2 linked regions of the Homo sapiens genome follow. The protein of the gene in region 2 interacts with the protein of the main gene of each other region in a pairwise test. Each region holds a gene or a part of one and is shown on either strand. Other genes may lie near its edges.

What was found.
Region 1: the proteins of RAB22A (region 2) and APPL2 interact in binary tests that used the Homo sapiens proteins (3 or more experiments, as listed by UniProt).

Annotation. Positions count from the first base shown.
Region 1 is NC_000012.12:105,233,172-105,240,353, forward strand, and holds the start of APPL2 (DCC-interacting protein 13-beta), read right to left. Parts: upstream 3,004-7,182; 5' UTR 2,842-3,003; coding exon 2,788-2,841; exon of another isoform or gene 1-2,787. UniProt on the Homo sapiens protein: Multifunctional adapter protein that binds to various membrane receptors, nuclear factors and signaling proteins to regulate many processes, such as cell proliferation, immune response, endosomal trafficking and cell metabolism.
Region 2 is NC_000020.11:58,354,708-58,361,732, reverse strand, and holds part of RAB22A (ras-related protein Rab-22A), read right to left. Parts: intron 2,128-7,025; coding exon 2,030-2,127; 3' UTR 1-2,029. UniProt on the Homo sapiens protein: Plays a role in endocytosis and intracellular protein transport. Mediates trafficking of TF from early endosomes to recycling endosomes. Required for NGF-mediated endocytosis of NTRK1, and subsequent neurite outgrowth.

The DNA of each region.
Region 1 (7,182 bases), on a different chromosome or scaffold from region 2:
ACACTGTACTGGAACTGTTGCCTCATTATCTGTCTCTGGAACAAACTGTGAACCAGTCAAGGGTAGTCACTCTTATTTATCTTCACATTCCCAACAGCCAGTAGTGCCAGGCAAGGAGCAGAGGCTTCTAAACAACAATGGAGGCAGATTTCTTAATCCCTAAAATGTTCAGCTTCCCACATATGAGAGGTAAGCAGAAATAACGCATGTGTATGCACACAGACTAGTTTTACAATGCATCGTGCAGCACTGCAAACTAAAAAGGAGTCCATGAATAGATGTGTCTAAGGTCAGTTAACTGCTATTCAGCTCTTCCTGGGTCACTCAGTTCAATTACAAAAGCTTTGGTGTTCATTTAATTCATCCTGTGCAATCACATTACTGAAGCAACTCTCAAAATTACTCTTCATAAAACTAGAAGAAACACACAATAGATGGTTTATTAGGATCTTTTCCTTTTAGTGAAACATTTTAGGTCACTGATGACAGAAAAGCCCGGTGCTAGATAGCTGGGCTAACTTGAACCATATCCCTAGTACAGGCAAGTTGCCTGGGTTCCAGTCCTGGCTCTGTCACTTTATGGTGTATAATTCTAAGCAAATTACTTCTCTGCTCCTTAGTTATTTAAATAGAGAATGTACTTCAAGACTATTGGGAGGATTGAGTGAGTTAATATATGTAAAGCATTTAGAAGAGTCCCTGGCACATAAAATCCATGAAACAGGCATTTGCTATTGTTTTTATGCTTTGCACATAAAATGAAGGGGATGGATTAGATTCCTTCCAGTTCCAAGTCTAGGAGTCACCTTGGGAGTAAAGCTACATTAGGCACAGGTCACATACAAGAGAGTAGTATATAAATATGCTCTGATGATCATTAAAGACCTTCTTAAAGTCAGCTTCCATTCTGCACAACAGCACCATCAAGAGCCCTCTTAAGGGTGATGGCCAAGTCTCAAAAGCAATGACAAATAAACTTCCTATATTAAAAGGAACATATTAAATAAGAATGATAATATCTCTAAACCTCCTCTGCCACATACAAGTTCAAAGTTATACACCATGTAGATATGACAATGTTAACTCTAAAGCACCTTGAAGATCACCTGCTCCCTCCCTGTCTCTCATTCTGTAGATGTTCTGTAGATTAGGAAACTGAGCCAGCTACAGGGTGGAGATGAAGAGACTCACCCACATCACATCCTAAGTGAGCGTGAGAGCCAGAATTAGAACCCAGGTCTCCTGACTTGCTCTACAGTCCTGTCTACTTCCTCACAGCTGGGCAAATCCTTTAAGCCACTCACAAACAGTGTATATTCCTTTATGTTAGAGCTGGAAATTAAGAATATGATCTGTTTGTGAGGACAACATCAAGAATCAGTTAGTATAATCACTGTAACCTGGCTTAGGCATCACCATGTAGGTTAGAAAAGCAGGATATTTCTGTGCACCTCAGTTTCCATAAGTGCAAGGCAAACAGAGATCCTTGTTCAAAGTGATCATTTAAAATCTCACATTGCTATCTTCAGATTCCACACAACAGATATGAACATGGACAAAATGCCTTCTACCAAGGGCTTTAGTCTGATTAAAATGCCAGGAGTCTACAGCCATATAAAAAAGGGAGGCCTTGAAAAAGTCGTCCAGAGGATGCAAACTTACCAAAAAACAAAACAAACAAACAAAAAACACACACACAGCTTGCTTCCAGTTCCTTACTTATCTACACTAGGAGGATCACAAAAAATGAACAAAAGACACCTATGCATACAGCCCTTCGGACTTATTCTGAACTGTCGATGTAGGTAAATCCATACAAGGATCATCCTGGGAAGTATTATTCACTTAGAAGAAAAAGGGAAGGAACCCCAAAAGAGAGGGGAAAGTGTGAAACGAAAATAGGTTAATCTTATTCTAAGTTTTCAAGAGTTGAGACACTAGGAAATAAAGGCACTTATTTAAATAAACCCGGGATGCTGAACCAGGAGTGTAGGTACGAAGCTGGAGAAATGTTAAACAAAGGAGAACAAAAGACCCCTGGGGAAAGATGTGCTGAATTATGAACTAATGTCATCCTGCACTCATTTGCTATATTTACACACCAGTTTTCATCTGCAGAGCTCAAAGGACTTGACTCTCATCTCGAGTGTGCTAATGAAGTTCCCTTGTGCGACAAATGGGGCAGGTACTGTATTTTTCTCTTCACTAATGGGAAAACGGTGCCAAAAGGAGGCCTGGTACCGCCGGAAAAGAGATCCAGGCCCTCTGCCTCTCATTCTGGCTGGCACAAGTCTCATCACATCATTAGGAGTAGCAGTAATAAGACTGACTCATTATCTGTACCGGACATTGTCTGCTGACAACTTTACAGGTATTTCTCATTGACTTCTCCTAACAACCCTATGAAGCAGGCACAATTATTATTCCTATTTTACAGACGACAAAACTAAGGCACAATAAGGTGGTTTTCCTGAGGCACTCAGCTACTACATGGAATCAAAGTTTAGATCTCGCAGACTCAGTTGCAGCTGAGCTTGCAGGGGGGTCACGACATCAAGACTCCGGCCGCGGGGCTCTCTCCCCTGTTCCACAGCTCTGCCCCGGCTCAGGACTCAGGGCCCGGCCCGCCCCCTCCTCAGCCCGAGAGAACCCGGTGGGAGGCGCCGCGAGGGGGCCGGGCGCACTCCCGCGGCTGCCCGGCCGGGGGCGCGGCCTCCACTCCGGGGCTGGAGGGGCCTCCTCGGCCTCACCCCTGCGGGCGAGGGGCACCGGAGCGGCGGGAGGTACCTGGGGGCTGTCCTGCAACGCCTCCTCTAGCAGGAGCTTGTCCACGGCGGGCATGGTGCGGCGCGGCTCAGCCGAGGGCTGGGTTGGAAGGACAGAGGGCAGGAGACGCGGCGGCCGAGAGCACTCCCCGGCTCTGGGCTCAGGCGACGCGGCGGCCACTCCGTGCCCGCGGCGGCCCCGCGCGCGTCCACGCCTGGCCAGTGGCCGCCGCCGCCTGCCCGCCGGCCCAGCCCCCGGCCGAGCCGGATCAACAGGAAGTGTGGCGCGCCCGGCAGGGAAACCGGAAGTGTGGTGAGCTCCGGTCCCGACACCGGAAATGTGGCGCCCGCGCTTCCGCCTGCGCTCGCCGGCTCGCGGGGAGCGGGGGGCTCTGGGTGCCAGTCCCGTTGCTGAGGGAACCCTTCGGGTGTTTGTTCTCTGTGCTGAAGGTCCGTCAAGTCAATGCATATGAAGTCCAAAAGAGGAACTCGAGGGTAGAAAGATAAGGTTTTATCTGCTTATGGCTACCCAGAAAGCCTTTTGAGTTGAAGGAGCGAACAGATTTTTTCTTTTAATGGAAGGAAAAACCCACACTTCCCACACCACTTTTTCTAGATAAATTTCGACGCCCCTGAAACAGCTCTGAGAGCAAAGAGGTCGCCTATGCTATGGGAACAAAGAAAAGAGGAGAAAAGCTGGATAACTGACTCGTCTGTGATAATCAGAAATAACCACTTTGGAAACCACAGCTATTTGATGTGGTCATAATTAGGTCTCGTCCTCCTGGTTTATGTTTTGTGATTTTGGAGAATTTCATAATCAAATGTTTAGAATTGGAAGGGCTAGATAATCTAGGTTCCAGTGTTGTCATTTAGAGATGAGAAAATGGGACCCAGAGAAATAAGTGGTCTGCCCAGGGTCAGTTAGTAAACGCCAGAGGAAGAAAAGAAGGAAGGGAGAGGGATGGAAGAAGACTGGCAAGTGGAACGTGACACCTTTTTACACGGAAGGCAAGGGTTTCTGAAGTTCCTTCTTTAGAAGTTAATAAGACTGGCCGGGCGTGGTGGTTCACGCCTGTAATCCCAGCACTTTGGGAGGCCGAGATGGGTGGATCACGAGGTCAGGAGTTCAAGACCAGTCTGGCCAAGATGCTGAAACCCCGTCTCTACTAAAAATACAAAAATTAGCCGGGCGTGGTGGCATGCGCCTGTAATCCCAGCTACTCGGGAGGCTGAGGCAGAAGAATCACTTGAACCCGGGAGGCAGAGGTTTCAGTGAGCCGAGAGGGCACCACTGCACTCCAGCCTGGGCAACAGAGCAAGACTCCGTCTCAAAAAAAAAAAAAAAAATCATGCAGTATGTGTGTCACCAAAATCAACAGAGGGGATATGGTAATATATAAATTCTGCATTCTGCAGAGACCTCTTAGGTATATCAAGACCCAATCTGCATTGCTGACACCTCTGACAGTCTAGTATAGTAGCATGCTGCCTGATCACTTGAAAACTCCAAGGCCATTATTCCCTTGGTCTGGCCAGCGCCAACCTGACCTGAACCATTTTATGGCCTCCATCTACCATATTTTCCTCCACAGTATTCTTTCTTCCCTATTCTTTCTTGCCTCCACCATACTCTTGTCTTCCCTATAGGTGGAATCATGCTCACACCATATTTCTTCCCTTTCCTCTATTTTATACCGCCTGCCATTCAGTTCATTTTACCTCATCCAGTGTCCCAGACTCTCTTCTCACTGAAATCTAATTCCTCACGGCCAGACTCATGCTCTTCCTTCATCCTGATTGCGAGAACAGTACAAGGATAGTATTATACCCAGGGAAATAAATGTGCACATTTTAATTTGAAAATATGCATTACAAGAAGTTAGTGCCCTCAGAACCCTTGAAAGGGCTCAGACAGCCCCTTGGGAATCACAGCATTTTTCATGTACCACCTCATCTTCTAATTAAAGTTACTTTTCTTCAAATACTAGTATTCAACATTCAAAAATTGTTTAAGCTATCCCATTACTTTTCTGCATTTTCTTGCTACATTATGGGCTAAACAGCCTTAGTGGGATTTCTTGGAACTTAAGAACTGTTTACAACATTGTTTCTATGGGAAAATCTATCCCAAATTCAAAACAACTAAGTTACAAAAGTAGATCTGGAAATACAACACATGCATAAATGGTTTTAATTTATCTCATTTGTTAATTCATCCAATCATTCATTCATGTATTAAATATAGACTGCTCAGTGTTAAGCACTGTCTCCCACTTGTTTGATTCTCATTTAAATTCTGAAGGCAAATATCCTCTCCTTTGATAATCTGTGAGAAACTACATAAGAGGAATTTTTATGTCAACATGAACATTTAAAAATGTTTCATTAAAGAGTATATATCTGTTCCTATTAAACTATTATGCAGGTGGATTTTAGAAATCCACCCCACTGTCTCTGAAATCCCTGGTCAGCTGTGAAGTTGGTGACAGGAAGTATAAAGATGGACAGTCTGGAGTTGTCGTGATGTCTGAAGAGAGAGAGGATGAATTATATGGAGGTGTAACCTGTGACCCATTGAAGGCCAGTGGGGAAAAGGACACAGTGAGACACAAAAAAAGGACCCAGGATGGCCAGGTCAGAGAAGGCCTGGGGCTTCAGGAGTAAGAGAGAAAGGCAGGAGTGAAGAAGGCAGCTGTTTTGGGAGATGCTTAGCAAACTGCATGATAGGGCACACGCATTGAGATTCTTTCCTCTGCCAGTCAAGCCCTTTCTCCTGCCTCTTGTCTGACAAACCCAACCACAATCATCAAATCCCAGTTTAATGTGACTTTTTTGATGAAGTCTTCATTTACTCCTGTCCCCCCAAGCAGAATACATTTTCCTTTCCTTGAGTGTGCTTCAGTAGCACTTGCCGAGATAATTCTAGAATAACACTTACCTCTCTTTGTTTCCACCTCCAACCTTCCAGCTAGAATGGGTAGGAACTTGGTCTTATTTATTTCTGTAATTAGAGTGCCTAGTACATTACCTAGCACAAAAGCAGTTGCTTGATAAATACTTACTAAACTATAATGTGTTATTATAACTTATACATGATTGATACTCCAGAGTTTAAAAAATGTTTTCATGAATCTCATTTCATTTGATAGCACAATGCTGCTTTTGCCGTTAATCATTCACTAGGTAGCACCGACTGTGTGTTAGACTCTTCTCTAGAAGCTGAGGATATAGGCTGAAGCAAAAAGTAGTCCTTGCCCTAATGGAGTTTATATTCTAATGGAGGAAATAATAAGAAACAAATACAAGTTGATAAGTGTATGATAACCTTTAGTAAAGGAATAGAGGATCATGGGAAGTGGAAAGGATTCTTTGAGGTGTGCAACTGTTGAGCTGAGAATTGAATCAGGGAAGCCCAGCCCGAAGGAAAGAACAAGTGTGAGGGCCCTGAGGCTTGCTCCTCTTTGAGGAGGAGCAGAAAGGCCAATGTGGCTAAGGACAGCGAGGCGGGAAAGAGTGGGAGGAGATGAGGTTGAAGAGATGCCAATCACTGGCTCACAGAGGACGCTGAGTCCATGGGGAAGGACTTTGGGTGTTGCTCTTGATATGGCAGGAAGCCACTGTAAATATGAGCAACTGAATGACAGGGTCTGATTTACATTTTTAAAGACTATCTCTGGGTTCTGAAGAGGCTTTTGCAATCCTTCAAGCAAGAGATTTGAGAGATATAGGTCAAAGTCGAGGGTATGGAAATGTTGGGAGGTAGTTGAAGTCTGAACATATTTTGAAAGTAGAACTGACAGGATATGCTGGATGTAGTATGTGAGAGAAAGTGGGAAAGCCATTGGGCAAATGGTCCTGTGATTTACTGAGACAGAAAACCCTGGGGAGAAGCAGGTTGTTGGTGGTGGCGCATCAATAGTGCTGTTCAGGCTGTTGTGATTGAGATGCCCGTTAGGCAATCAAGTGGAGGTTTCATGTGGGTACTTGTATATACCACTCAAGTTTAGGAGGAGACTGGGGCTGAAGGTATAAATCCATGAGTTCACCAACATGGGGACGTTATTTAAACCAAAAGAGTAGATGAGATTTCTTAGGAATCTAATACAGAAAGGAAAGAGGAAAGCTTGGTGGATTGAGGCCCAAGCAAGATCCAGCAGCTAATGGTGTAGGAGGAATATCAGGAGACTAATAGACCACCCTAGAAGCCCTATGAATGGGAAACTTGGAGGCACTACTATACTAAAAGCCAGGGGACAAAAGGTTTCAAAAATGAATTGATCCACAATGTCAAATGCAGCTAAGAGATCAAGTAAGAATAAAGACCAGAAATTGACCTTTAAATTTGCCAATAGGAAGGTCATTCGGTGAATTTGGTAAGAGACTTTGATAAGAGCAATTTTATTTGAAAGCAAGA
Region 2 (7,025 bases):
TTGGTAATGAGTCAAGCAACCTCTGTTTTTATTTTGTTGTCATGGAGATAGAGGCCCAGCAGTGGGAATTCTAGGGACACACCAGGGTGGTGCCCGGATGCCTGGGATCCATCTGGATGTATACAGAAGAAAGTCAAACTACTTTAGGTGTAAAGCGCCTGGCTCTGGGAATCACATGGCTTCTCTAGGAGCTTGCTAATTTAGCACCGGGGAGGAAGCAAAATCCTAGGGGCATGGAGCATCCACATGTCTTTTAAACAAAACGAAGTTAGAATTTTTACTAATGACATTCTTTTTATATGATTTCAGAAGATAAAAAAAATTCCAAATGCTTAAGATATACAACAGGGAAAAGGGAATTGTTTTTTATTTAATCTGAATTATAATTTTCCCATTAAAATCTATCCATATTAAGTGGGGGGCACAAAATAATACCAATTATTTTTTAAAGTTTCAGCTGTTCAGTTTCAGGATAGCTCTGAAAATACAATTTAGTTTGAAATTCAAGCTGTTTCATTTCCTATTAAATCTTGTAAATTTCCTTCCCCTACAATACTCAGGTTGGAAGGGTGCCAAATTAGACCAGGAACAAATTTTCACCAACTTCACTTCAATGCTTTATTTTTAGATGATATTAAAAACCTCATTAGGCTCCCTGAGGGAAAAGAGTGTTAACCACTAACAGAGGCAGGGGAAAAATAAAGGAAACAGAAAGATAAGCTAAATTGTTAACAAGGAAAGCTCCTCAGTTGGTCTGAGGATGCTGTACAAGCTAAAAGAAACTTATTACCAAGACCAGGTAAATGACTTGAGGTTGGAGCTTAATCTTTTACCCTCAGGCTAGTAAGGACTAGTCAGGTTTGTCAAAGTGGCATATGTCTTTATTATGATTTCCAGATGGGATCTGGTGGGAGGCGGGTGGGTAGAAGGGAAGGCAGAGAAACCTTTAAAGATTGTAAGCTAAGTGCTCTATACCTTTATACAATACCAATGTGCTTGAGTCTCCCGTTAAGAGGCTGAAAACTGGGCAGGCATACGCAAGACTGGGTGCGAGATTCAATGGAATGTCAAATGAAACTTAGAATTTATTAATGTATTTACATAATTTATAATCTTTAAGCAATGGCCCCATAAATATAGACTACAACTTTACATATGCTAAGCAATAGATACTTGCTTTTCCCCACCAAAATACTTGGGTTAAAAAAAAATTGACAGCATTTATACCACCTTCTTCACTTCCACTCTTCTTCCTTTTTAAACCATTGCTAGTCATTTTAGAACATATGAAATTCAGTTTATTCCGGGCAGCTTCTCTACCATCACCATCTTGATCATGAGAGCTTATTTAAAAAGGTGCCAATAACGTGTTTGGTGGCACACACATGACAAGGTCAGAAGCAAACCCAGGATGAGCTAGGCATCTGCTGCTATCATTGTTAATTTACTGTACGTATCCTAGGCTAACATGTTCAATGAAAAGTGCTTTAGAGATGGCAGAGATGAAATCATTTCCATCAGTCCTATAAATAACCCATTTTAGCTTCAGACAATAATTGTCCTCCCTACACTTAAACTATCCTACTATATGTTAAATGATACAACTCCCTCTAACAGTGGTAACAGAAACCAAGGAAATTATAATCTCCACAAGGTCTGTTTCTTTTCCCTTAAGAACCACAAAAGTGCTAATTTTCCCTTTACAAATGTTACATAAAATCTTGATTACAAAACTACTCAACAACTTAATCCTACCATCCATACAATTATATGTTCCTTTTCAGCAAGGTCAAAAGCCAACGATGTAGTCCCTTTGTACACTAGAGATTCTTTACATAATAGAAGTTCACAGACTGAAATATCATTGCTGCAGTCTTTGGAGAACAGAACTGGTCCATTTCTGTGAATCCTTTTTGCACGGAGAAGACTCAAGACTGGCTAGGTGAAAACTGGTGGCAGGGACCCCAGCCCTCCTGTTAACTTTCAGGACCACCTACTTCATCATCAAGTCTGAGAGGCTGAGGTTCGGTCAGCAGCAGCTCCGCTTTGGCTCTGAAGGCTGTCTTCGGAGTTTGAAGCCCTTACCGCCAGATGGCAGGTTGGCGTCAGTGGATGGAATTCTTCGACCTAAACCAAGATGAGAAAAGGGAAGGGAGTGAGCTTTAACTTTCTCAGACACAACAATTTTGCAGATGCAATTTGACAGGTTTCACTGAAGTAAAAAAAAAAAAAAAAAAGTTTAATAAACTTTTTATACTCGAATAATTTTAGATTTATAGAAAAGCTGCAAAGATGATAGAGCTCCTGTGTACCTCCCACCCAGTTTCCCCCAGTGCTGACATATTACCATGGGACATTTGTCAAAATGAAGAGTTCAACATTGCCACATCACTATTAACTCCAGACTTTTTTCAGATAGCATCAGTTTTTCTACATGTCCTGCTTCTGCCCCAGGATCCAAACAAGGATATCACACAGCACTTAGTAAACGTTTTTTAATTAAAAAAAGCCACACATCAAAAACATTTTGTTTTGAGTAGGTAATACATAGGATTTGTTTTTTAAAAAGTTCAGTCAGAACATGGTTGTCCCTCTGTCTCATGACAAGGCCACCACTGTGGCCCATTTCTCGTGTAGCCTTCCAGAGACATATATGCACAAACACTCAGGCACACCTATATCCCTACCCATCTCCCCTTTCCAAGGCCAAATGGGGCAAGAAATAAAGCAAACCATATGCACCATTCTCCACCTTGATACTTTCACTCAACACATCCTGGGGATTGTGGCATCATAGTACATGGAGAAAGAGCCGTCACCTTTTTTTTTTTTTTTTTGAGACAGGCTATCGGCTCTGTCACCTAGGCTGGAGTATAGTGGCATGATCTCGGCTCACTGCAACCTAAGCTTCCTAGGTTCAAGCGATTCTCCCACCTCAGCCTCCCGAGTAGCTGGGATTAGAGGCGTGTACCGCCACGCCCGGCTAATTTTTATATTTTTAGTAGAGACCAGGTTTCGCCATGTTGGCCAGGCTGGTCTTGAACTCCTGACCTCAAGCAATCTGCTTGCCTTAGCCTCCCAAAGTGCTGGGATTACTGATGTGAGCCACTGTGCCTGGCCTGCTGCCTTCTTTTTAACAGCTCTAAAATACTGCATTTGTAGATGTACCACCATTCATTTAACCATTTCTCTATTGATGGGTATTTAGTTTGTTTCCAATATTTTGATGTTATTAACAAAGATGCAAGAAGCATCTTTCTGAACTTACGAGTATGTGTGTAGGATTAATGCCCGGAGTGGAAGAGCTAGGTCACGGTATTCTACTCCTGGGTATTTGTCTGACACATACATTGTATTCCAGTGTCTATCTAGCACAAATGCAGGAAGAATGTGCAATTTAAATTTTGACAGATGCTGCCAAATTACTCTCTGAAGAGGCTGTGCCACTATATTCTCCTACCAACAATGCATGAGAATGAACAGGTTTCACTTCACTGCTCCGTGAAGCATAATGACAATTTCAAGAGAATCCTTAAATCACCCATCTACCTACCTGGCTGATAACTCAAGGGTTGCTTCTTGTACAAAGGCTTTCCTGACACCCTCCCACTTCCTTACTCTGTAACATCCCAGACACTACAATCAATCAGGACACCAGAAACAGGTTACTACACATATCTCATATCTGTTTACATGACTATCTCCCTCACATTAGACCCTAAGCTCTTCTAGGGAAGAGATCCTATTTGTCCATCTTTATGTTTCCAGTATCTTATCAGCACAATACCTGACACAGAAGTATTTTGTAAACATGGAATAAATGGACATGTACACCTTTTGACATTAACAAGGCTAAGATGGCCTCTCCGCTGACTCAGGTTCTCTCAAGCCTTGAGCCTCCACCACTTTGAGTTGTCTGCGGATCTGTGTGGGGAGTACACAGCATGGTTTCTACATTGAGAAAGTATCTCCCAATGTCTTCTAACTACTTTTCAAATGACTAGACACTGCTGTGAATATACTACAAATCTGTTTAAAAGCTTTACCCAAGCTTCTTGTCATTATTCTCAATAAATGGATATTGAAATATAGCTGGTATCTAAGAGACATCTGTGAAATATGACATCAAAAAATTGTTGAACAAATAATATTTTTAAAAGAAATAAGAGGAGAATATTTTCATGAGCTGGGAACAGGTAATGATTTCTAAAACAGCAACCAAAAACCTAATGCAGCTAAACATAAAGGAAAACAAGGATCAGTCAGATTATATGAAGATTAAAAACTTCAATCCATCGAAGGAGTTGACTAAAAAAATCAAAGGCAAGCCATACAGTAGAAGATACTTCCAATATACATAGTCAATAAGTGACTCATCTCCAAAATAAAGAACTATAAAACATTAAGAAGGAGGCAGGTAACCCAACAGGAAAACAGGCAAAAGACTTAACAGGCCCTTCACAAAGGAGGATATGTAGATACGACAAATGTAAACATATATTCGGAAATGTGCTCGACTTCATTAACTGTCATGAAAATGGAGATCACTGACTACCCACCAGAGACAGAAGGTGATCGGACTTCTCATACACTACCGGTATGGTTGTCAACTAGTACAACTACCACTTTGAAAACTGGTTGGCGGTAAAGCTGTACTGAATGCATGCATACTCAATGACAAGCATTTTTTCTTGTGGGTATAAATATACCTAACAAAAATGTGTACAGATGTTCACCAAAGAATACGATCAGAATGTTTAGAGCAGTACTGTTTGTAATAACTCTAAATTGGAAACAGCTACCCAAATGTCTATCAACAGCAGAATGGATAATTATATTGTGGGTATTCTTCACTGCCCCCTTACCCGCACAACTCGGACTCTGACACTCACACGCACAAACCAGCCATGAGAGTGGATCATTCACAGCTAGATGCAATGACATGGATGGTCTAAAAATGTAATGCAGAATGAAAGAAGCCAGACACACAAGAGGAAACAGAGTGTTTTTAAAAATATAAAGTACAAAATATATGTAAAACAAAACCAGATAAACCAATCTGAAGAATTAGTATCAGGATGGTTACCGTTGGGTGTAGGAACGGCCATGTCCCAACCAGAGTGCCAAGCACCGGAGTATATTCAGTTTGTGAAAATTCACTGAGCCTTATACTTCTGATACGTGCACATTTCTGTATGTCTATTATACTTCAATACAAAGTCAGTGTGCCAGGCACTGTGCTCACGCAGTTTTACTAAGCCAGTGAACAAGAAAGTCTATGTACATCTCTCCCAATTTTTCTAATCTTTGTGAACATATAGGTTTTGTTTTTCACAGTTAAATTGAATATGTACATACTAGTTTTTATATAAGACTTTTCATTGTTGGTATAGTTTACTATCTTCCTTTTTTTTTTTTTTTGAGATGGAGTCTTGCTCTTGTTGCCCAGGCTGGAGTGCAATGGCGTGATCTCGGCTCACTGCAATCTCCACCTCCCGGGTTCAAGCGAGTCTCCTGCCGCAGCCTCACAAGTAGCTGGGATTACAGGCATGCACCACCACGCCCAGCTAATTTTGTATTTTTAGTAGAGATGGGGGTTTCACCATGTTGGCCAGGCTGGTCTCGAACTCCTGACCTCAGGTGATCCACCCATGTTGGCTTCCCAAAGTGCTGGGATTATAGGTGTGAGCCACCATGTCTGGCCTACTTTCCTGTTTTTAATACCACTAAAGTGAAGAACACAAAAAGATAGCAGTAATTTTAACATACTCATGACACCACACACTTAGACATTTTAGCTTGAGCTGTGAAAAATTCCCAACTGGCTTTATGTTGCCTTTCAAAAATCCATCTGGGTACCTGCTATTTACATCCAGGACAACAATAAACATGATTTTTGTTTTTTTAAGAGACAGGGTTTTGCTCTGTCACCTAAGCTGAAGTGTAGCGGTGCAATCAATGGCTTACTGCAGCCTCAAATTCCTGGGCTCAAGCCATCCTCCCACCTCAGCTTCCCGAGTGGCTGGGACTACAGGTGCATGCCACAATGCCCTAGTATTTTGATTTTTATATTTTTTTAGACATAGGGTTATACTATGTTGCCTAAGGTGGTCTTAAACTCCTGACCTCAAGTGATCCTCCTGCCTCAGCCTCTGGAGTAGCTGGGATTATAGGTGACAACCACCATGCCCGGGCACATCATGACGTTTTAACACTGAAATGAACGGGCTGGCCTAGAGGGTGCAATCAGTAGTTCACTGGCCATATCTGGCAGCAGATGGGCTCCTTAGGCCTGCAAAGTACTCTGAAAATACTTAAATGATTGGCCAAATCTAAACAATGGGACATGTAAAAAAAAAATGTGAAAACAACCTCAGCAACCAGGGGCCCACATTCCAGTGTGGCCCCAGCTGATGGAGCTGGGCCTGGCCTGAGCTGGGGTTCCCAAGGCTTCACCTGGGCCTGCTCTGCTCATGGGTCAACCTTGCCTGGCCTTGGTGGGCTCTGGAGTTCATGCCCCTCCTCGACACAATGGCAAAGGACCCTCCCTGCTTCAGTACCCTTGGCTCTCAACCACATGGTGGATCTTAACGCTACATCCACCCTGCTCTGACGGCTTTCTGCTTTTCTCCACCTGGAAGTCTGACATGTTTATGTGACTCCCCACACCTCTACAGGGCCTGCTTCTTTGGACCTCAGCTCTGATAGCACCTCCTTAGGGAGACCTTCCCCAATTGCTTGCAGACATTCCTTCATTTCATCCTAAATTATTTTCTTTGTATCAGTTATTATGATCTGAAATGATCCTATTTATTTGGTGTTCACTGTCTGTTTCCCTCTGTAGAATGTGCGCTCCAGGAGAGCAGGGGCTGCGTCTATCTTCTTCACGGCTATTTCCCCTGAGCCTGGAACAGCTCCCAATAAATATTTTGATGAATTTGAATGAAATGAATAAACATAGATACGATCTGCAGAGGATCCCAAAGGCATGCAGCAGCCCCTCTCCCATCGAGTATCATCATATT